Linked DNA regions of Homo sapiens: region 1 is linked to region 2. Evidence: fine-mapped expression QTL. A gene starts in region 2. The other region holds a variant in brackets. All regions are shown on one strand. Distances are from middle to middle.

Region 1 (12,575 bases), 62 kb before region 2:
TTGTTTCAATTAATTTAAATTTATGTAGCCACATGTGTATAGATTCTGTACATTTACTTCTTGGGCTCTTGCTATGTGTTGAGTGTTGGTAAGGCCTAGAGAATACAGTCAAAGAATTATTCTTTTCATGGTATTAATAGTCCAGTGGAGAAAACAGATATTAAACAGTAATTTCAAGTATGCAATATGAGACACAGAGAATTACAAAGTGTAGGGATCTAACCCAGCTTTGGGAGGTTGTATTAGTCGGCTAGGGCTGCTGTAACAAAATAGACTGGCTGGCTTAAATGACAAAACTTTATTTTCTTAGAGTTCTGGAGTTTAGAAATCTAAGACCAGGGTGTGAGCAGGTTTGGTTTCTTCTGAGGCCTCTCTCCTTGGCTTGCAGATGGGCACCTTCCCGCTGTGCCCTCACATGGTCATCTCTCTGTACGTGCATATATTTGGTGTTTCTCTTCTTACAAGGACACTAGTCATATTGGATTAGGGCAATGATTAGTTACTTCTTTAAAGGCCCTATCTACAAATACAGTCATACCAGGAGTTATAGCTTCAACATGTGAATTTTTGGGGGGGATGCAATTTAGTCCATAACAGAAATTAAATAAAGTTTTCCAGAAGAAGTGAGATTTAGGCAAAATGTGAAGAGTGAGTCGGAGTTGGTCACTGGGAAAATGACAGGGGAGTGTCCTGGGTGGGAAGTAAGGAGGTAGGAAAGCTAAGAGTGAAGAAAGAGTGTGGTGCTTTTGAGGAACTAAAAGAATAAAAAGCCCCAAATGTCTGGAAAGAAGAGATCAAGGAGAGAAGAGTCCCATCTGAATATGGAGGGGCCAGATTAGGAAAGACCTTGGAAACCATGGTAAGGAATTTGTGTTTACCGAGAGCAGTAAATCAATTCCATCTAATTTATGTAATGACTCTTCCCCCAAGGAGGTGGAGCATCTCTACCCCTTAAATGTGAGATACATTTAGTGACTTGCTTCCAAAGAGTACAGTATGGAAAGGGAGGGAAGAAAGTAACTTTACAGTGGAAAAGGTTGGCAAACACAATTTCAGATAGATGATCAAGGTTAACCTCCTGATAAATCACACTGATGGCATGCATCCCTGATACGCCATAATGTGCCATGGTCTTTTTCCCCAAATCCTGTAACTCCAGTCTAACCGTGAGAAAAATACCAGATAAACCCAAATTGCAAGGTATTCTATGCAAACTCATAGAATGTCAAGGTCATCAAAACTGTCAAGGTCATCAAAATAAGGAAAGGGTGAGAAATTGTCGCAGCCTAGAGAAGCCTAAGGAGACATGACTAAATGTCGTGTAGTGTTCTGGATGGGATCCTGGAATAGGAAAAGGGCATTAGGGAGAAAAAACAATGAAATTAGAATAAAGTGTGCAGTTGAGTTAATTTAAAAAAAAGTTAATTAAAAGACATGAAAGAAGAGCTAAATAAATGGAGACGTATTTAATCCTAGGAAGACTTATTTGGTAAAAATGTCAATTTTTAAAATATTCTATGCAGTAAATACAATTTAGATCAAAACCCGCAAAGTAGTATGTACTAAAATTCAGCAAGCTGATTCCAAAGTTTACGTGGAAGAGCAAAGGACCAAGAAGAGCCAAGAAAACTCTGCAGGAAAAAAAAAAAAAGCAGGACAACTTTCCCTACCTGACATTCAAGATTTATTATAAAGCCATAGTAATCAATGCATGGAGGTTTTCGTGCTGGAAAGGACAATCAGGGGAAAGGAATGAAGAGCCTGGAGAAGATTTGCACACATAACAGGGATGATGAGACACATTGCTGGCAGGGACTTCTCAACAAATAATGCTCCTGCCCTACGTGAAAGTCAACTCTAGGTGAATTACATACCTTAGTAAGAAAAAAACTTTAAAACTTTTATAAGACACCATAAGAGAGTATATTTATAACCTTACTGACACAAAAGACCTAAATTGTAAAGGAAAAGATGGTATATTTAACACACTAAAATTAAAAAGAAAATCTCTTCAACAACATATTCCATAAAAACAAATGAAAAGACAAAGAATACCCAAGGGGAAGATGTTTGGAAATACATGTAACCAGTCCAGAATATATACAACTGATACGGGTAGGAGATGGGAATAGTGGATAGAAGAGGGTGGTTCCCTGGCAAAGACCCCACCCTCAAGCCGGGAGATCTGCAGCGCTAAGTGGAAACAGGCATTTCTGTTTTCGTGCCCAAAAAGTTGCCTTTTGGCCTGCCATGCTCCCCTATCCTGTGCCCATGTAAACTCTGAACCCCAGGCTCCAGAAGCAGACGAGCAGGTGAGATGAGGACACAAGCAGACAAATGGCAGAACGACACAGTAGAGAAAAGAGGAGGAATGTCTGAACGCCGAGAGGAGTTTGGCTGGGAGCAGCCAGAGGGGAGTTGGGCCACTGGATGGCCAGGCTCCAGGGGAAGATCATCTTTCCCCTCCATTCCCCCTTCCAGCTCCCCATCCATCCCACTGAAAGCCACCTCCACCACTCAGTAAAACCCCACATTCATCCTTTAGTCCTGTGTGTGACCTGATTCTTCCGGGGATGCTGGGCAAGAGCTCGGGATACAAAAAGCTGTCACTTCCCTCTGCCCTTGTGAAAAGGCAGATGTCCGTCAAGCTGGTTAACAATCAAGTCGTCCGCAGATGGCAGGGCTAAAAGGACACGCTGTAACACGTGCCCAACTGGGCTCCTGCACTTGTCCGTCTGCGTTCTCCCCCTCCCCTCAGGGGTTTGAGCAGTGGTGGTGACTAAACAGGCAAGCCACACCCCTGTCGCATGTCCTGCGAGGGGGATCAGAGAACTCCCCTGTTTCACAATCAAATCAACCAGGCATGGTGGTGTGTGCCTGTAGTCTTTGCTACTCAGGAGGCTGAAGCAGGAGGATCGCTTGAGCCCAGGGGTTCAAATCGAGCCTGGACAACATAGCAAGACCATCTCTTAAAAAAAAAAGAATTTTTTAAAAAAGAAATTATATTAACTAATAAGAAAGAGACAATGACCCAATAGAAAATTGGCCAAGGATAGGAGTAGGCTCTTCGTAGAAATCCAAATGGGTGCAAATCAATAAGAAGATGCTCAATTCCAATCAAATTCAGCGAAATGCAAATTAAAACAATGAGATACCATTCCCATCCATTACATTGACAACAATTAAAAAGTTTAACCCAGCAAGTGATGATAAGAATGTAGAAGAATGGGAACTTCCTCTTGTACTCTTTTGTAGGAGTAAAAATTGGTACAGCCATATCCTGAAGGATATGTAACATGTGCACAAGGAAATATGTACATACAGGTATTCAATTCAGCATTTATTTACTTTAGAAAAAACTGAAAAACCACCTGGCTATCAATAAGAGAATGGATTAACTATGGTATATATAATGGTTTAAATGAATCAACTGGAACCATGTGTATCAAGAACACATCTCTAAAGCATCTTAAGAGAAAAAAGTAGGTTGCAAATGAATGCACATTTTATACAACTATTTTAAAAAATTGTTTAAATATTACATACACAAATATTCTGGTAGATTGCAAGAATGGTTACAAATTCCTTTCTTCCCATCAAGAGTGGAGCCTATTTCTCTGCCACTTGAATCTGGGTTGGCCATGTGTGTTGCTTTGGCCAAAAGGATGTTTGCAAACATGACACAAGCAGAGGCTTGAAAAGTGCATTTGAATTAGGGCTTGCACTCATACCACTCATGAGAAAGTAAGACACACTTACCCGGGTTGCTTGCATTTCTCAAGCCAACAGCCAGCAGACTTTCTAAAGCAGAGCCACTTAGATGACTGACAGTTGACCATGGATATATGTGTGAGTCCAGCTGAAACCAGAACTGGCCAGCTGAATTCAGCTCAAATTGTTGACATAGATAATTGTAAACTAAGCCACAAAAATGGTGGTTTGTTTCAAACCACTAAGTTTTGATGTGGTGTGTGATGCAGCAAAATCTAAATGATACAAATACTAAGTATTAAAGCATGCTGGAGAAAAGATACCATCAACTTATAAATGGCATAGAAACAAAAATATTATATTACTTTCGGTATGCTTGAAATATTGTACAATTAAAAATTTATAATTTCCTTGAAGACTCAGTGGGAAATGAAGAAATTAGAACAGGAAAATGAATTAAGAAGTTTAATTGTGAAGGGGAGGAGACAGAGCATTAGGAGAGATTTAAAGTACATAATTTAGAAGGAAGCTGGTCGAATGGAATAGGTTGAAAATATTGCGCAATAGGATTATTAATTGGTGATGCAGCGTTCCTGATTATGCAAAATATGACAATGGAATCCTGGGCCCAGGATGAGGGACTAACCTTACAGAAGAATGGGCACCTTTTCCTGGTAGTAAGGAAGGATGGATGTAGGTATAGGCAGTTTTGTAGTTTTAATAGCAGGAAGTCGATGGCATCTCTTTCCTCTCTGAATTGATAAATAAGGGCATCTTTTTGAGATGGTCAGGTTTAGATTGCAAACTGTTAAAAGTCATTGGGGGAGTGACAGGATATCTTGCCCAGGATAACAAGGATTGCTGGGCATCACTGAAGGTCCAGTTGAGTTTGAGTTTGGACCAGTCCCCCAGGCATCTATCTGTCTCCCTCAGTACATAGCATTCCTAATGCAGACTGGTAGAATTGGGTAATTGGAATTATGTAGAGCTGGAATTTTGTCTGTTAGGTGAGATAGCAGGGCAAGGGAGTTGAGTATATGGGCAGGATGGCTGCTGAGTGATTGACCATGGAATCTAAGCTGGATAAGCAGTAAAGTGAAGACAGGTGAGGATAGGGTTAAGGGCTGCTGTTTTGCGATTTTGAGCTGCCTGTACTTACATGTTTGTCTCCCACACAAGTTCATAAACTCTTCAAAAAAGGATCTTTTTTTATTCATCATTGTTATCTATAGCATCAGCATAATATCTAACTCATAATGAGCTCTCCATAAATTATTGTTGAATTGAATAATGGCTTAAAACTCTGTTCCTTAAAGCTAATAGCTATACTCACCTGCAACTTTTTCTAGGCAAAAAAAAAAAAAAAAAAACCTGTTGTTAATTTTTTCTCATTGGTTCTGCTTGCTCTATTTTGCTTTCTATTGCTCTATTTTTTTCTTTAAGATCTTTCCCATGCATTTTATGCACCATCCTTTCTAGTGAATAGAGT[C/G]TTTTGAATATCTTGTTTGATTAAGTCACACCTGATTTCTTCTCTAGCCAATTTAATTCAGGAGATGAATTCTGATGACCCAGTTGTGCAACAGAAAGCTGTCCTGGAGACAGAAAAGAGACTACTGCTTATGGAGGAAGACCAGGAGGAGGATGAATGCAGGACCACCTTGAACAAGACTATGATCAGTCCTCCACAAACTGCTATGAAGGTTTCTTTTTCTATTGAGAAGTTATATAAGTACTTACAGTGAGAAGACCTACACCTAGGCAGTAGTTTAATCTCAAACTGTCCAGCAAGGCTGAAATGGTCTTTTGTTTCTTAGATTTATTTTTTATAAGAAAGTATAAAATTTGATTTTTTTTTTCCTTTGATCTTTCTGGGTTATCTTTAAACAACCCTTTGGATCTATTTTAATGGAAATTTCCCCTCTCCACCCCCTGAGCTTGTGTGATATATTTAAGCTGTACCTTTAAGGTAATGTATTCTAACTCATTTCCAACTCATAAGCCACAGCTGAGGTCCCTTGACCTGGGCAGCCTTGTTTTGCAGACTCGGTCCCATAGCAATTGTGCCCATACTCAGATCTCCTGATTTAAAGCAAGCCCCATGAATTCTGAGCCCTTCAGTTTTGATGGTTAAAAGAAATGACCTCTTGTTTGTAATTGATTTGCCTTCTTGGTTTATATACATATAAATTAGAGTGGTTTTTGAAATTTGTTTCTTTGTTTTTATGGTAACCTACGTCTACAGAGTGCAGAAGAAATAAACTCAGGTAAGGACAGCATCTCTCTTCCCAATTTTCATTCTTTATATAGGACCAGTTTTGATTGATTGTAGCTCCCAGACCCTTAAATTATTGCCTTTGAGCTTACAAACAACCTGTGAACAAAAACCTACTGATCATCCCATTCTGTTACTAGTGATCAGCGGGAATGTCCCTGAGAGGTTTTTCTTTATTTTCTCTTGGTCAACCTTTTGTAAACTCAATTCAGTTATTCTGTATCATCCAATTTACCCTGTTCAAGGGATCCAGATAGTTTCTCTGTTGCTCAGCTCAGAAGCTCATTATGCTAAACGGAACAAAAAAATCTCTCTTCAAAGAAAAACTCTTTTAAAAGACATAATTCAAATTTGAAGCACAGTCATAGCCATCATGTGTAATAATGCATCACACAGATTACCATTTAATGTCAAATGAAGAAAATGTCATTTTAGTTGCCTCAGAATGGTGTGTGTGCGTGTGTGTGCCTGTGTGCATATGCATACGTGTGGCTCTAAAGTAACACTTCGAATTTGAGCTAAAGAACTGATTATAGTATTTGGATTTTTCTTTTTAATATCTGAAATTACCCTGCTGTCAGAGGCCTTCTTGGCATCTGTGGAGAAGGATGCAAAGGAACGAGCCAAGAGAAGAAGGGAAAACAAAGTCTTGGCGGATGGTAATTGTCAGTCCTTACTTTTCAATGGCTGGGATGATTTGTGCTAGAAAGAGCACACGAAGGCCTGTATGCTGACATTTGAGGACATCTAGATTCCCAGTGGTGAGGTTTGTGATGGGCTTGAGGCAGTGGGACCTGGCCAGAAGGAAATCATTGATGGTCTGTTCTCTGTTCCTGCTGCAACAAGCAGAGGGTAGGATACACCTACCTCCAGTGAAACCTCTTTCTGAAGCTTCCCTGTGCACTTAGCAGAGCAAAGTGAATTGTACTAAACAATGCTCAGGAAGTAGTGGGGGGTGAGAGTGAGCTGCCACTGGCTAGCCTAAGGCATAGATGAAGAAGTGGAAAAGAAAAATAAAACAGCTGTGAGATAGGAGAGGAGACATCAAGGAAAAGGAAGGGATGGGATTGTGTATGTTGCAGGGAGATACATATGATAGAAGAATGTTTTCACTTTTATTTTATACCACCCAGGGCTGTGTGTGCTGCAGGTCTGAATGATTCCATATTTGTTGGGAAAATTAATTATTTGACCCTCTTTATGAGACACCGAATGCACAGATTTGGTCTCTGTGGCAAGCTTAGTATGGTTCTCAGCCTCAATGCAGAAACATTTACTTTTTCTGAGAATCTACTTAGAAGACATGGGTGGATTTGGAGGAAAAAAAATACTTGAAGAAGCTGGTCCTGAAGTATCTGCAGAAAAAAACAAGTGTCAAGTCCCTTTAGGATCGATAGAAGTGAAGACCTTCGAAATAGAATTGGAAAATCGGGGGAATAAAGTCTGAGAGATTTTCTGATGTGTGGTGAGAGCTCACCTGTGTAACTTATATTCCCATAGCCCTAAAAGAAAAAGGGAATGAAGCATTTGCTGAAGGCAATTATGAAACAGCTATCCTGCGCTACAGTGAGGGTTTGGAGAAGCTGAAGGACATGAAAGTGCTGTACACCAACCGAGCCCAGGTCAGTGAGGCAGGGATGTATCCATGGGGCTTTCTCAGGGAATAGTTGCCACTAAACTTGGGAAAACAAAGATGAGGCTAGATGTTGGGCTGGGAAATGTTTATAAGAACTGGCTCTTGTTTTAAGTGTGGGAGGAGCTGACTTATACACAGCATTTACCAGTTTCCATGATGCAAATATTCTCACCATGATCTAATTTGGAATCACTGCAGGAGGACTTGGGAAGAGCTGTCCATTATCAGCTCTCTCCATAGTATAAGTCAGCTCCATCATATCACTGATGGTGACCATGCACTTGTCCCTGTGGATAAAGGAGAAAACTAGTGGAATGAAATGACCTATGGGACCTTAGAATTCTGCTACCAACATATTTCTTCAGCCTCCTTTTTTGGTACTAGTCTTAACTCCTAGCGGATGCCCACCTGTTAGTTTCTCATTCATTGTATCAGTCTCTCTTTAAGATTCTGCGACAGGGATAAAGTGGATAGCCAATGGTCCTGGAGCCAATTTCTTGGAAATTTTGGGTTTCTGAAGGTTTTTATGCATTAGTATATGTCACAAATGAGCTCAATTTCCTGGAACACCAGGTAAAAACCACCCAGATGTTTATTTACTACTTAATGAAGGGATAGGCTGATAGCTCTCAACTGAAACAAAACCATCACCTGTGACCTTATCTTTGAAAAGTAGTTTAGTTTTTGTGTGGTAGAGTTCTCTGCTGGACAGGCCTGAAAAATTGGCAGATTCATGGACATGATTACCCCATGGTCAGAATATGTCAGCAGGACCTGTGTGAGGTGGACTTGATGCCCTGTCATTTGCAAGAGGGAGAGGCTCAGCAGAGTCCTCATCAGCTCTAATTTCCCTAACTCGAGTTTAAGAATGTCTGGCTCTGGGATGTTGAGGAAGAGGACTGGAAGCAAGAAACAGGACATTCGGAAGCCGAAACATATGGGGAGTGACAGTGACTTAATGATAAATAAATCCAAGCAGTATAATCTCACTAGTTTAGCAATTTGGATATGTTAGACTAGAGTTGAAGTGTCATTTAAACTATCCCAATTTTGGAGAAAACTTGTTATAAGGAAGTGAATCGGTAAAAAAGATGGCCAGAGGTTGATTTAGCAGTACATTGCATTACCCGAACAAGATTATAAACTTTTTGAGGGCAAAAACTGCCATATACTTTTTCCCCTAATGCTTTATTTATAGCAGATGTTCAATAAATCCTTTTTTAGTTACATAACGTTAAAAGCACAATAAGTCCAATTAAGGGAGTTAAGTTTCTGTTGACAATTCAGAGGCATCACTTAAATGCAAGCAATTAATAGAATAATTATAGTTCCTTCTTATTTATTACCAAATTTGGTCTCTAAAAACATCTGCCTACTGATGCTTATTCAGTTGTGTTACTCTGAAATTATTTGAAAGCAACAAAATTGAATTGCTTTAAAAAAGTTATATAATTTCAGACATATCTAATTCAGACTGTCTATACTCTGATTCATCTAAATTATATTTTCACTGCACTCATTTTTAAGCAGCACTTTGATTAGTTCTGAAGAATCACATTAAGAATGAATGTGGATAAATATAAGGAAATGTAATGAAAAGGTTTGAGGGAGTGATTCCTCTCAGCTTTCCCAAGGAGAAAGCTTATGCAGAGACAAAATAATGGACAATGTGCTCCCTGGTGTTACAAACCGTTTGAACCATTGACTATTTTTAAAATGCTTCCCCTGTATGCATGCAGTGTCAGAAAACACTTAATAAGGACCCTGTAAATTGAGTGTTGCTTGCTAGAGAGAAAACCTAACCTTTCATTGCTTTGTTTTTCCCCTGGAGTTAATGTTATGATCAATAGATTGCCGGTATAATTTAGATAAATCTGGAGTTTAATTGCTGTTTGGAAAAAGTAGTTCCTTTTTAAAATGTGCAAAAGCAAAAGAGATTGAGGAAGTTATAGGGTGTTTAATCCAAGCCTTAAGAGAGAAAGAAAAAAAAAAGTAAAAGGCTGTGTAGAGAAATTGTTGGAACCCATAAAGACTTCTTCAGAGTCTGCATGTATCCTAAATAATAGTGCCATGAAATCATGGCCACAGCTGTCTAGAATGATGCCAGCTTCCTCTTCACATCCTCTAATTTTCAAATGAAACCTGAGACCCTGGAGAAAAGGATGATGCTTTACAGAACAGATAGCTCAAAGAGTCGTCTTCTCTAATTAGTACAGAACATGAGTTAATGAAAGCACCACTCGCAGCTTCCTTGCTATGGGAGCCAAGAGCGGCATGATTTCAATTCATTTGCTGGCTGTTGCCTACTCCCTCCTCACTTGGGTTGGATACTTGGATTCCCTGTGAGTTGCAACATTGACCCCACAATTGGCTTGTCCATGTAAGTATCTCATGAGGTTCGTTGTTAAGATTGTGTTGCAGTGCCCTGGTACAGTTTTGATCATGGACAATCCTATGTGTAGTACTGGCTTTATTATTGGTTGCTGATGGAACCCTGGAAAAGCCACCACTCCTGGTGCTTGGCTATCCTTTCGTACAAATGGGATGATCGATGCTGCCTCTCAGGGAGCTTTCCAGAAGAAGAGTGCTTCAGAGTTACTTAGTGCAATTTGATAAGACTTTATTGACCACTTACTGTGTCCAGTAATTAATAGAGAGGTTATAGTAGCCATTGTGCTTGTTTATAGTCTTTCATTTGTTTATATTCCTCTAGTCCTTAGAAACATTGAACTAAGTTCTCAATCAGTTCAGTTTGAATGGATCACGGAATTCTGAGTCAATTCTTGATTTTCAAGATTTTCCCCAATTCTAGGGGATTCTAAAAGAGTGCCCCAGGCATTTGATACTAAGGCTTCATGGTGATGCTCTGACTCTCATATGTCACTCTACTTCTTTCATTTTTTTTTTCTGCTGTGCTCGGGAGGACAGAAGCAGAGCTTTATTATCTTTTGATAACAGCGTTATTGAGATATAATTCACATACCATACAGTTCACCCTTTTATAGTACACAATTTAATGGAATTTTAGTATAATCACAGAGTTGTGCAACCATCACAATCAATTTTTGAACATTTCATCATCATCCCCCAAAAAAGCTCCATCTTCAACTGTCAACTCCCCCAATCCTCCCATTACTACTCCCAGCCCAAGATAATCACCAATCTACTTTTTGTCTCTATACCTTTGTCTGTTCTGGACATTTTATATAAATGAAATCATACATTTGTCCTTTTATGACTGGCTTCTTTCATTTATCGTAATGCTTTTAAGATTCATCCATGTTATAGTATGTATCAACTCCTCTTCATTTCTTTTTATTGCTGAATAATTTTCCATTGTGTGGATATACCATATTTTATGTATCCCTTCATCACTGATGGACATTTGGATTGTTGCCTTTTGACTATCATGAATAATTCTGCTATGAACATTCATGTGTAAGCATTTGTATGGATGTATATTTATATTCTTCTTTGGTATATACCTAGGAGTAAAATTACTGGGTCATATGGTAACATATTTAACCTTCTGAAGAACTTCCAGGCTATCTTCCAGATGGGCTGTGCCATTTTAATGCCCACCAGCAGTGTATGAGAGCTCTAATTATCTGTCTTTTTTATCCCCTTTATCATTTGGTGTTTTTCTGGAACATTCACAGCAGGGTAGACTCCAGAATCCAGCTCTTCCTTCTTGGATGTGGCTAGTGAGCTGGGTATTTTCTCTGTCCCTCTAGATCCTTCCCTGCTTTGTGCCCTGGAGGGCTGACCTGTGTGGACTGGCTCCTTGGCTTCCTAGCCCTCTAGCTTCCATTTGCATTCAGCCAATAAAATGAGAAGGAAGGAGGAAAAGTGAGATTGGGGTATTTATTCTCCTGGCCTTCGGCTCTGGTGAAGGCCTCAGCTCATGTCAGGCAGTTCTTTTCGCAGAGCTGTCCTCCCACATTTTGTTCATTGCTCCCTCCTTCTGCCCCTTCCATTACAGCAGTGGTAATGGCTGTCCACTGTTGCTAGCCCTGCGATTCTGTAGCATCCCTTGTCAGGTTCCCTAAGCCCTGCCTTCACCGTGGAAGAGGTCCCTGTATTCAACTCTCCTCAGTTGCCCAGTGCAAGTGTGCCATCTGTTTCCTGGCAGGACCATGACTGATCCAGGTAGGGGATAGTTCTCGCTGACATTCTACTGTTCGAATGTTCTTTCTGTGTGAACTGAAAACTGCCTGATGCAGAATTGTGTGTGAATATCAGCTGTTGGTTTCATTACAGGCTTATATGAAACTTGAGGACTATGAGAAGGCACTGGTGGATTGTGAGTGGGCTCTCAAGGTAAGAGGGTATTTCTTTTCCCACATGATAGTGTTGGGCTGAAGTAGATAGAAGGCAGCTGCCAGTGTATCAAGATAGGAAAGGGTATAGCCTCTGTAGCCAGAGCTTCAGTTTCCTCATCTGTAGAATGGGATAGAATAGAATTGTTAGGAGGGTCACGACAATGCACAGAAAGTGCCTAGTTCCTAGAAAGCAATCCAGGGAGCTGCTGCTATTGAAGTTTCAATGTCTTATTTTACTTCAGCTCCTTCTTTACTATTGTGTTATCAGACACTTGGTTCTATGTGGTAGTGGAAATGCCTCCTTCTGTCTTCTAGAGCCAGCCATTGGAGCTTATTTCTGCAATGCTGTTCTTCCTTGTCAGTTTGTGTTTTTTCCCTCCAGCCCTAGTAATTTGGAAATATAACATCCTCTATTTGTAGAGGAATAATCAGAAGAAAGAATTCCTATTTTTCAACTTTAGTCAGGCCTTGAGCAGATAAAATAATTCTACACATGGCATTTCCTCTGAAATCTGCCAAAATAGATGGTCAAGGATGCATAGACATAAAGACTATTGGTGGAAATGTTAAGAGTTACTAAAAGAGAAATAATACGATCACTTTTTAGGGACATGACCAAATATTTAAGTAACCC
Region 2 (12,575 bases):
ACCACAAACAGTGTATAAGTGTTCCCTTTTCTCCACAGCCTCACCAGCATTTGTTATTTTTTGTTTTTTTTTTAAATAATAGCCATTATTAAAATGGTTGCTGCAAAACAGTAACTCATTGTGATTTTGATTTGCATTTCTCTAATGATTACTGATGTTGAGCACTTTTTCATATATGTGTTGGCCGCAGGTATGTCCTCTTTTGAGATGTTCTGTTCATGTCCTTTGCCCACTTTTTATTTTTTATTTTATGTTTCCATAGGTTATTGGGGTACAGGTAGCATTTGGTTACATAAGTAAGTTCTTTGGTAGTGATTTGTGAGATTTTGGTGCACCCATCACCTGAGCAGTATATACTGCCCCCTATTTGTAATCTCTTATCCCTTGTCCTCCTCCCACCCTTCCCCCCAAGTCCCCAAAGTCCATGGTATGGTTCTTATGCCTTTGTGTCCTCATAGCTTAGCTCCCACATATCAGTGATAACAAACAACATTTAGTTTTCCATTACTGAGATACTTCACTTAGAATAGTAGTCTCCAATCTCATCCAGGTCCATGAAAATGCTGTTAATTCATTCCTTTTTATGGCTGAGTAGTATTCCATCATATATATGTATATCTCACAGTTTCCTTTTCCACTAGTTGATTGATAGGCATTTTGGTTGGTTCCACAATTTTGCAATTGAGAATTGTACTGCTGTAAATGTGTGTGCAAGTATCTTTTTCATATAATGACTTCTTTTCCTCTGGGTAGATACCTAGTAGTGGGATTGCTTGATCAAATGGTAGTTCTACTTTTAGTTCTTTAAGGAATCTCCACACTGTTTTCCATAGTGGCCATATAGTTTACATTCCCACCAGCAGTGTAGAAGTGTTCCTGCATCCACACCTGATCACTGCATCCACACCAACATCTACTGTTTTTTGGTTTTTGATTATGGCCATTCTTGCAGGAGTAAGGTGGTATGGGTTTGATTTGCATTTCCCTGAGTGATGTTGAGCATTTTTTCATATGTTTGTTGACCTTTGCCCACTTTTTTTTTTTTTTTTTTGAGACGAACTCTCGCTCTGTTGCCCAAGCTGGAGTGCAGTGGTACAATCTCGGCTCACTGCAACCTCCATCTGCCAGGTTCAAGCAATTCTCCTGCCTCAGCCTCCCAAGTAGCTGGGACTACAGGTGCGCACCACTATGCACAGCTAATTTTTGTATTTTTAGGAGAGACAGGGTTTCATTATGTTGGCCAGGCTGGTCTTGAACTCCTGACCTCATGATCCACCCGCCTTAGCCTCCCAAAGTACTGGAATTACAGGCGTGAGCCACCATGCCGGCCTCCTTTGCCCACTTTTTAATGGAGTTATTTGAAGGCATCGTACTACCTGACTTCCGACTATACTACAAGCCTGCAGTAACCAAAACAGCATGGTACTAGCACAAAAACAGTCACATAGACCAATGGAAAAGGATAGCAAACCCAAAATAAAGCTGCACACCTAACAACCATCTGATCTTTGACAGTCAACAATCACAAGCAATGGGGAAAGGACTCCCTATTCAATAAATGGGATAACTAGCTATCCATATGTAGGAGAATGAAACTGGACCCCTACCTATCTCAATATATAAAAATTAACTTAAAATGGATTAAAGATTTAAATGTAAGACCTAAAACTATAAATATCATAGAAAACCTAGGAAAATACCATTCTGGACATTGGCCTTGGCAGAGACTTTATGACTAAGTCCCCCAACAAAACAAAAACAATTGCAAAAAAAACCAAAAGTTGACAAGTGGGACCCAATCAAACTGAAGTGCTTTTGCATAGCAAAAGAAACTATCAACAGAGTAAACAGACAACCTTGGAATAAGAGAAAATATTTGCAAACTAGGCATCCAGCAAAAGTCTAATATCCAGAATCCACAAGGCACTTAAATAATTCCCATGCAAAATCTTTTCTTGGTTTCTTTTAGTGTACCCAAAGTGGTCTGGCTAACTCTTCATCCCTAAAAGAGAAAAGGAGGAAGGAAGGGAGGGAGGGAAGGAGGGAGGGAGGAAGGAAAGGAAGGAAAGAAGGAAGGAAGGAAGGAAGGAAGGAAGGAAGGAAGGAAGGAAACTTACTCTACATGAATAGTAAGGAAAATAGAAAAAAAAAAAAGAAGTTATAAGAAGCATGACACTAGTCACATTTTAGAAGTCCCTTTCTTTACCTGCAGAGCCAGCAAGCTTTCAGAGTTCCCAAGAAAACCACCTTTTAGTGTTTAAGTCCTTCCCTAGTCCTAGCTTTCCTTCACTCCCCCCTATCCAGGAAGGGCCCAGAGGAGAGCAGAAGGATAGATTTATGGCCAGATCACCAAGGTTGACATAAGGAGGGCATTTTCCCTTTAGAGTCCTGGTAATAGGGACTCAATCTCCCTGGACTGACTCTTTGTTAAATTAAAAAGGGTTAAGTTTAGCATTCCTAGTCTCTTGGACACTGCCAGAGAAGGTATTGACCATGACATCTTGGGCATGCTCTGAGGCTGTTAAGGCCCCATGTTGGAATGATGTTTCTCTGAAGCCCTGGCCACAGCCAAGCATTTCTTCTAAACTGCTTGAGATGGCAGGATGCTTGAGACATCTGTTTGTTATTTTTATATGGACCCAGCCCAGAATCACAATCACCCAAGACCATAAAGAACCTGTGGCCATGATTTTGACAATGAGAACCATGGTTCATGAAACTCAGGGCTTCCATTTTTGGCTTCTTGACACTCAAGGTAGTTTTTCATCAAAAAGCCCTTCAAAAGAGAGACTGGTTTCCTTATTAGGAAGGAAAATCTATACTCTGCCAACTCCAGAAATTGAGTCTTAGAAGGAACTAGTTCGCTCCCTCTCTCCATCGTCTCCAGCCTCAGACATTTAACACAGTGGCCTTTCTCTTTCTCCTTGGGGTTTCTACGTGTCCACAGGGGGCCAGCTGTGTTCCTTAAGGCATTCTGTGGTAAATGTTAGATTACTGCCTTTCTCCTATTATGGGAATATTTTCCTTCCAAGAATATAACATTACCTAGTAATAAGGACAAGAACGAGAAATAGAAGGGGGAAGGAGAAGTAGGAGGAGGAAAAGGAGGAGGAGGAAAAGGAGGAGGAGGAAGAAGAGAAGAAGGGGGCTTTATTTGTATTTTTTAAATGTTCTGCTTGGAGATAATTACAGATAAGCACACAATTTTAAGAACTTATGCAGAGATACCCTCACCCAGTTTCCCCCAAAGGTAACATCTTATGTCACTATAGCACAACATTACAACCAGGAAATCAGTGATACAATCCATAGTCCTTACACAGGTGCCGTCAGTTTTACATGCACTCATTTGTGTGTGTGTGTGCATCTGTGTGTGCATTTAATTTGATGGAATTTTGTCACATGCATTGATTCATGTGGCCACCACCACAGTTAAGATACAGAATAGTTTCATCACAAGGTTCCTTTGCACTAACCTTTTACAGCTACACCCACCTGCCTCTCCCCCAATCTCACCTCTGACAACCACTAATCTGTTCTCCATCTCTATAATTTTGTCATTTTAAGAATGCAATATAAATGGAGTCATACAGTATGTAACCTTTTATGATTGGCTTTGTTCACTCAATAGAATTCTCTGGGGCCTCATCCAAGTGGCTGTGTATATCAGTAGTTGCTGAGTCCTATTCCATAATACAGCACTATGGTGTGTTTAGCCATTCATTGGTTGAAGGACATCTGAGCGGTTTCCAGATTTTAGCTATTGCAAATAAAGCTGCAATGAGCATTCATATACAGATTTTTGTGTGAACACTGTTTTCATTTCTCTGGGATAGATTCCCAAGAGTGCAATTGCTGGGTTGTATGGTAATCATATGTTTAGTCTTATAAGAAATGGCCAAATTCTTTTCTAGAATTGCCATACCATTTTACATTTCCACCAGCGTATGAGTGATCCCATTACTCTACATCCTCATCAGCATTTGGCGTTGCCACTATCTTTTCAGTTTTATTTTTAGCCATTCTGATAGGTAGTTAGTGATATCTTACTTGCATTGCTTAGTGGCTCATGATATTAAACATTTTTTCAAGAACTTATTTGTCATCTGTATATTCTCTTCAGAGAAATGTATTTTCCCATTTTCTAATTTGATGCTTTTTTAGCATTGAGTTTGAAGACCTCCTTATATACTCTATGAACCAGCACTTTGTCAAATATGTGCTTTACAAACATTTTCTCCCCATCTGCACTCTTCTCTTCACCTTCACCAGGTCTTTCACTGAGTGAGAGTTTTTCATTTTGATGAGGTTCAGTTTATCAATTTTCCCTTTTATGGATTGTGCCTGTGGGATTCGGCCTAAGAACTTTTCATCTAATCCTAGGTCCAGAATATTTTCTCCTTTTTTTTTCCTAAAATTTTTATAAGTTTACATTTAATATTTAAGTCCATGATTCATTTTGAGTTAATTTTTCAGGTGTGAAGTATCAGCTGGTTCATATTTTTTGCCTAGGAGTATTCCTAGTATATACCTAAGGAATGTAACCTTTAAAAATATACCTAGTATTTAGATATATTTTATGGATGATAATCATAATAACCATTCCAAAAGGTTGCTGTAAGAATTATAACCTTTAAAAATATCCTAGGTATATTAAACTAATATGATATTATATTGTATTTTTATGTTATATTAGTATAATATTATACTAATATACTAGGTATATTTTTAAAGGTTATAATTCTTATAGCAATGTTTTGGAATGGTTATTATGATTATCATCTATTTTACAGATGGAGAAACCCAGAAAGATTTGATAATGTGACCAAGGTTAAACAAATGCTAAGTGATAGAAAGAAGCCAGGGTTTAAATGCGGGTCTGACTGACTGACTCACTCCCACATTTAAACCCTGTTCCTATTGCCTCATTCAATCCCTTTCACTCTGGGAGTCCTGCTTCCTGAACAGATGTTCCACTTTCCTGCATACATTCCTTTATCCTGACCAACCTCAGTACACAAGCTACCAGAGGCTGGGGCCTGCCAGAACCTGTCCAGGGTTCTCCGTGACATGTTTGCAGGGTGGAGAACAGGGGCAGACTGGGAAACTTCCCTATATGCAAATAGCTTGTCATTCCGGTTTGGGGAAAGGCTCACATCAGATTTCAGCATCTTCTAAAGTATTGCAGAGCTCCTGTACCAGCTCACTTGTCTGGGAGGAGCAGGCTAAAAATCTTAGGTTCCCCAAAGACAATCACACATACACACAAAATTCATTTAATAACTCCAAATCCAGAACACTTCCATCTTCAATCTGCCCAAACAAAATGCACTGATAGAGGTTAGTTGGAAGGACTCAGAGCATTTTGGGGTAAAACTTCTATAGCTAGAACCTGTTCCTTGCCCCTTCTGGTGGGTGGGGGTCATAATTGGACTATAACCACTTCATTATCCATTCCCATTTGTAGGTAGATATGGGTAAAGGTAGAGTTTCCCTCCCAACCCCCCAGCTCTCTCCCCTCCACACACTGGCTGCTGACTTCCCAACCAGCCAGGACCTAGGGACTTCTGCACTCAGACCACTGGAAAGAAACCAGCAGCCTCTGAGTTGACTTTACTCTTTTGCAAATCCCTATACCTCACCCCACTTTTAATGAGAGATCCAGGAGTTCTTTGCCTCTGTGACCTTATACTCAGAAAGGGTCCCTCCACTTACAACTTCTCCCAGAGCTTATCCAAAGACTACTAGGCCTTTGCCCTAGCCCATGTTAGACAGCTGTAAGGAGCAGGACAAGCCCAGTCAAATGATCCAGTCCCTCTGGGTCAATGAATGTATCTATTTTGACTGACTCCTCAGAAGCCTCAGGGGTGCTTGAACCCACAGCAGAGAGTTTCAACAGGTGGGTCAGCAGTAATACGCCCTGACCCTGCAGTTCCTCCACCTCCACCCCTGTGAGAAATTCAGAGGTATTTTGTTCGGGATTCTGGCAACATGCCTTGAGCCCTGGGTGTCCCCTCTTCTAGGAATGATGCTTTCTTCAGTATTCCTGTGACAGTCTCTGCAGGCAGACAATGGCAGCTTCTGGTTACTTCCTCTCCCTGGAGAGCCACTTCAGGTATAAGTGGATCAAGGGGAACTGCTGAAATGACTCAGGCCATTCACCCTTGGTATTTCCTCCAGGAGCTGAGATAGGTCTCGCTGAATGTCAAAGATCGGGCCTCAGTCAAACTTCCGCAGAGCTGGGTGGCTGGTCACCTTCCCAGTCTCCATGTTCACCCTCCCAGTAGAAGGTATGAAACATCCTCTTGACCTCCTGGTCTCCCTGATGACAATGTCCTTTATCACCTTCCAAACTTCTCTGGCAGAGGCTTTAAACTTGGGCAGGCAGGGCTACTCCAGAGACAATGGGTTCTGTTATGCCCTGTCTTGCTCCAGCCAAAGCAAGCTGGGGGCCTCCCTCTGACATATGTTTGGGGGATACGTCCTGCTCCTGATGCAGTTTCCATCATCTCCACCCTCTTCCAGGGAGCATGACTCTCTCTCTTCCTTTTTTGTATTCATAAAAGGCTACTCCCTGATCCTCCCCTGGCCAACCATTTCCATAGAAACTAAGAGACTTGAGTTTGAATATCAACTACCACTTACTAGCTATGTGTCCATTGATTACTTATTGTCTTGAAGCCAGTTTCCTCATCTGTGAATAGAAGATGTTGACCTCATAACATTGTTGCAAGATAAACAGGATAATATATGTAAAGCAATGCAGTAACTGAAATAGTCACTGATCCTGGAACAAAGTGAGTGTTCAATTAGTAGTGGCTATCACTAGTTTCTATGACAACTGTCTCCAGGCCCAATCTTTGATCCTTAATCTGCTTGCCAGAATTCATCCTGGAAGTTGCAGGTAAGTTGTTACAGAGGGAGCAAGTTCTCCAGCTTCCACAGGGAGTCTCTGTTTGCCTATCATGCCTACACTGTTCCCTGGGAGTCTGGTGGGCTTGTGGCATGGACGAGGGGCTCTGCAGGTTTGGGCTGAAGGCAAGGCACTTCCTTGTCTGGTAGGTAGGCTCCTCAAACCTAACAGTGATCACTCTGAGGGCTCCTTGTGGACTTACTCAGCTGTAGGCAAATAGTGGCTGACTCTGCACTCCGTGGCCACAGTTCCTCCAGGTATGCCTGTCTCTGGGCAATGGCCCACTTGGTCAGTGCCCCTGGGGAGACCTGTCTGTTCAAGCACTTGTCATTTTCCCTGCTCTGAGGGTCTCCAAGGTGAGAGGGCAATCCCATGGACCCAGGACCCAGGGGAACCTCCAAGCTCAGCACTGGTCAGGCTCCAGCTAGAGCCTCCTCTCATCCCTGGCAACAAACTGCCCCTAGTAACTGCGCCAAGGAGGCCACCTCCCCCGTGGCCACCCCGAGGCTGGGGTCCATCCCTCTGAGGTTGGATAGAGCGCAGCCCAGGAAGGGAGTCCCCTGCAGACAGGAGCCCAGCCTCCCCCGCAACTCTGTCCCTGCTGACCCCTCCTTGGTAACCTATAGCACACCAAGGCTGGCTAACAAACAAACAAACAAAACCCCAACAAGAACAAAGGAAACATGAAACCAGTCAGACCAACAGATTCAGACCAGAAAATCCCCATTAAAATTGTTTGAGCCCCATACTTGCTGGATAGGGGCAGGGGTCCAGGCCTGAATCCTTCATAAACCATAAAACCTTGAATGCACTGAAGGAATGCATAAACCGATTTCACTTAGCGCTGGGCCTAAATAAACTGGATCCAACTTCTCAGGCTGGACTTCTTCCAGCTTCGGGACACCTTCTCCCAGCATCCCTCCCTAGGGGGAACTGGGGAAAATCAAAGGCTGAGACAGGGGAAATGCGAGGGCTTCGGAGGGACATACCCTCTTCCCCAGGCCCAGGTCGCTCCATCCCTGCTGGGGCCTCAGGGCTCATGTCTGGGATTTCCCCACCTTTGCGGGGCAGGAGCGGCTCCTCTTGGGCGGGGAAGGAGGCAGGGCCGGCTCGTCTCCCCATTCCCCTCTCCCGGACCCGAGGAGCAGGAAGCGGCGGCTCCTTCGGCCACCCAGGCAGCAGCCACAGCGGGGAGTGCGCGGCGCGGGGACAGGAAGAGAGGGGCAATGGCTGCCGACCCCACCGAGCTGCGGCTGGGCAGCCTCCCCGTCTTCACCCGCGACGACTTCGAGGGCGACTGGCGCCTAGTGGCCAGCGGCGGCTTCAGCCAGGTGTTCCAGGCGCGGCACAGGCGCTGGCGGACGGAGTACGCCATCAAGTGCGCCCCCTGCCTTCCACCCGACGCCGCCAGGTACTGCCAGCCTCGCCCTCCCCTTTCTCGGAGGAGAAACTGAGGCCCGGCAAGCTTTGGGCCCAGGGAGCTTGCGAGGAAGGAGTGGGCTGAGTTTGGGGCTGAGGACTGTCCCCCGCGGTATTTCTGAATTCCACCCAGTAGCCTGAGCCTCCCAGGCACACCCATACCTGTCTCCCTAACCAAAATAGAGTTGGCACATAATACCTGTTTGTAGACTCAACAGAGGTCAAAGGCAAGCGGGAACTACCTACCAAAGACGCCTTTATCCCATCTGACCTTCCGAACTTGTCCTGCCTGCTTCCATCCTTCTCTCCAGCGCCTTCTTCCCCCGGTGTCCTGTGGCAATAACTGCTCTTGACCGCTCTCTGCCATCCTCCTACCCACCCCAGCTCTCAGGGCAGGGCTGAGCATCCTGGGAGGCTGTGGCACTTTGCTCAGATCTGCAGGGAATCATGTTCTCTCTTCCCACGGTGGCGGGAGGGAGGAGGCCCCTCCCAATCAGTGCAGGCTGAGGAGGTCAGGGGATGGAGACTGCCCGGCCTGATGGCCTGTCCAGGCCCTTGGAGGGTCAAGTCTGGAGTTCTCTCATCTCTGTTTTTGTTTTTGTCCCTTGCTGTCATGCGCACTACAGCGACGCCTTGACATGCCCCTATTTTTCTCTTCCTACCTCTTTCCTACGTTTCCATTATTCTCTGTCTTCCCACTGATTTGGAATCCAGTCTCATTCCCACTGGAGTTGCATATACTAGCTGTGTGCTTGCACCTTGCAGCCATGAAGAAGACACTCGGGATGTTAAACCTGAGCATGATAACCATGTCCTCCTCCCAAGGCTCTGGGACATCAATTAGAGAGTCCGGGACGGGGGTCTCTCTGACTGGCATCTGGCTTGGATGCTATCTGTGGTTCTCTAGGATTACCATGCAAACTCTTAAGATACAGCCTCAGGTGCCACACACTCAGTTCCCAGGCCTTCCCCCACCTTATGAGGAGAGGAAAAATAAGATCGCCTAAGGCCCACTCACCTTCCTCCCTCAACATCTGCCTGTTGGTTTTGGAGGAGGGTCAGAGTATGCTAGGATTTGTCTAAATCATTTATAGCCTTTTGAATATAGAACGAAAGGAAACAGATGGCAGTGACATGATTACACTGTGAGACATTGATGCTAACTCCTGCCACTTTCCCTTCCCAAGTTCTGGGAATTCCCTGGGTGGAGGGGGTAAGATAATTAATGGTAATTAAGACTTAGTATGTATGGATTACTATACTAGGAGCTTTACGTGCATTACTTTACTAGATCCTCTTTCCAGCTATTCATTCATTCATCCACTTGACAAATGCTTACTGCTCTTCTACTATGTGTCAGGCACTGTTCTACACCCTGGGATTAACGATGAATGCAACAGATGTGTCCTTTCTCTCCGGGAGATTGCAGCCTAGGGGGAGGAAGACATTAACCAGATAACCCCACATGTAAATGTAAATGTGCTACTGTGAGAAGCTTAAGAAGGGGAGATTTGTGGCTCTAGGAGAGCTCATTAACAGAAAGTTTGACTGATATCAGAAAAGGCTTCCTTGAAGAAGTTACACTACAGCTGAAATGTGAAGAATGAGTATAAGTTAAGTAGGTGAGGAGGAGAAAGTTTTCCAAGAACAGACAACAGAGTGTGCAAAGAATCTGTGGCAAGAGGGGCATGGTAAGTACAAAGATGGGAAAAGGCCATGATGGCTGGAGTTGGGAGAGTAAAAGAGCAGTGGAAAACCACTGAGCATTTACAACCAGGTAGCGGTGGTGACCATGGGAGGGATTAATCAGAATTGCAGTATGGAGAATGCATTGGGAGGGGTAGAGTGGATTCTGGTTAAGTTAGGAGATTGTTATCTTCATTCTGATGAGAGACGGATAATAGGGGCTAGAGTGGAGTGTTGGTAGTGGAGATAGGAAAGGAATGGGTCAAGCCATATTTAGAAGGTAAAAATCCACCCGACTTGGTGCTGGATTAGTCATGGGGAGGATCACGATGAGGAAGAGGGGTATTAAAGCTAACTTGATGTCTGGCTTGCCCAAAGGAATGGAGGATCCACTAAAATGTCCACTCCATGAGAGTGTCTGTTTTGGTCACAGCTCTGTCTCCTGTGCCTGGCACAGAGTTGGTGTTCAATAAATATTTATTGAATGGCAGTGTTGACAATTAATGGAGAGACTATGAAAAGAGGCCTAGACTTGGAGAGGAAGATCATGAGTTCAGCTTTGTACCTGTTGAGTTTCAGATGCCTTTAAACAACCAAGAAGAGTTGTCATGGACATCAGAGTAAAGGTTGGTGCTAACAATATTAAAACTTGGGAGTCATTTGTTATAAGTGGTCATTAAAACTAGGGCATCAGGCTGGGCCTGGTGGCTCACGCTTGTAATCCCAGCACTTTGAGAGGCCAAGGCTGGTGGATCACCTGAGGTCAGGCAAGACCAGCCTGACCAATATGGTGAAACTCCATCTCTACTAAAAATACATAAATTAGCTGGGCGTGGTGGTGGGCACCTGTAGTCCCAGCTACTCAGGAGGTTGAGATAGGAGAATTGCTTGAACCCAGGAGGCAGAGGTTGCAGTGAGCCAAGATCATGCCATTGCACTCCAGCCTGGGCAACAAAAGTGAGACTTGGTCTCAAAAAAAAAAAAAAACAAAGCAAAAAAAAGGCATGGAGGAGATGCATTCATTCCAAGCACTACGTGAAAAAAACAAAGTCCTTGCCCTCATGAAGCTTATAGTCTAAAGGAGGAAGACAAAATAAATAGCAAATGAATAATAAACTTTTTAGCTATAGCACTCATGACCACCTGACAGTTCTTGATTAAAATATCTAAGAAGGGTTGAGAAGTCTGATTTTCCAAGAAATGGGTTGGTCTAAAAATATTAATGCCAGGGCCCTCTGTGTATGGGGAATATAAGAGTTGGAATGGGGTTGCTTTTTTATGTAGACTTCTCTGTGAAATCCATACTAATTAGGTACCATTTGAGTAGAGATTTGAAGGAAATGAAGGGGTAATCCATGTGGCTCTGTTAGGGAGGAGTGTTCTAGGCAGAGAGAACAACAGGTGCAAAGGTCCTGAGGTGGGACCACACTGGGCATGGTGGAGGAACAGTGGGAAGCCCGTGTGCCAGGGGCACAATGAGAGGAGGGTGATTAGGAAAGGAGGTCAGCAAGCTATGCCTGGCATTGGGGACAAATCTTGTAGGACTTTCTCAGCCATGAAAGAACTTTGGCTTTTACTGTGAATGAGGAGAGCCATTGGAGAAGGGCAGTGACATGTTGTGACTTAGATTTTAAAATATGACTTTGGCTGCTGGGTTGAGAATAGATTGTGGAGAGGAAGCGGGAGAAACAGAGTCCAATTAGGAGGCTTGGGCTGAGATGCACCTTGGGGGAGAGGTGGTGAGAAGTGGTCAGCTTGTTGCTCGACAGTATTTTGAAGGTGGTGCTGGCAGGATTTGCGAAGACTTGGCTGTGGGAAGTGAGAGGAAGAAAGGAGTCGAAGATGACACCAGGGTCCTATTCTGAGGACTAGAAGGACAGAGGCCCCATTCACTGAAATGATGAAAACTAAAGGAAGAGCAGGTTTCAGGGGAAAATCAGGAGGTTAGCTTCAGACACATTTGGTATTGAATATCCAATTGGAGATGATGAGGTTGACTATAGAAAGATTATAGAGGGAGAAGAGCAGAGAAGAAGGGCTTGGACTAAGCCCCGTGGTCAAGTAACAGGATATGAGCCTGCAAAGAAAACAGAGAGGAAGTGACCAGACAAGTAGGAGAAAAGCAGGAGAATGTTGACACGTGGCTCAAGTAACGAAGTTTCAAGAAAAAGAGTCAGAGATCTGAACTATACACTGAGAACTGAAAATTATTGGTTAGATATAGCAACATAGAGGCTGTTGGTGACCTTAGCCACAGGTGTTCAGGGGAGTGCAGGTACCAGAAACTAGACAAAAGTGGGTGCAGCAAGATGATGAAGAGGAGAGACAGCAGTAAATGCTCTCAAGACTTCTGGGTAGGAAGCTATGAAAGAACTGTGCAAGGTAGTTACAATTATTCCCAGTTTTTAGTTTAGAAACTGAGGCCCAGAGGATTCCCTTGCCCAAGGTCATACAGATAATAACGGGTGAAACTGGGATTTGAAATCAGGGCAGTGTGATTCCCACATCCCATGCTTTTTTCCATGCCATGGCAGATGTCATTGGTTCCTGTGAACCC

Alleles and levels. Alleles are on the strand shown, and positions count from the first base shown. SD is a standard deviation of normalised expression in the study named.
For the expression in cerebellar hemisphere of the gene that starts at base 8,034 in region 2, C is the low allele of the variant in region 1 and G is the other (large effect, 1.3 SD a copy in GTEx).

The links. PIP is the estimated chance that this variant, and not a neighbour inherited with it, causes the effect.
Region 1: its variant is fine-mapped to the expression of ANKK1 in cerebellar hemisphere (GTEx, PIP above 0.99).

The regions. Positions count from the first base shown.
Region 1 is chr11:113,318,041-113,330,615 of GRCh38, forward strand. TTC12 (tetratricopeptide repeat domain 12) reads left to right here. Exons shown (of 22, transcript NM_017868.4): 3 at 5,248-5,411; 4 at 5,954-5,975; 5 at 6,565-6,642; 6 at 7,484-7,605; 7 at 11,880-11,939. Among named protein-coding and RNA genes, the nearest start is that of TTC12, 9.7 kb to the left of the region's middle. The variant C/G (reference allele first, on the strand shown) is at 5,201.
Region 2 is chr11:113,379,746-113,392,320 of GRCh38, forward strand. ANKK1 (ankyrin repeat and kinase domain containing 1) reads left to right here and starts at 8,034. Exons shown (of 8, transcript NM_178510.2): 1 at 8,034-8,324. The coding sequence starts at 8,140.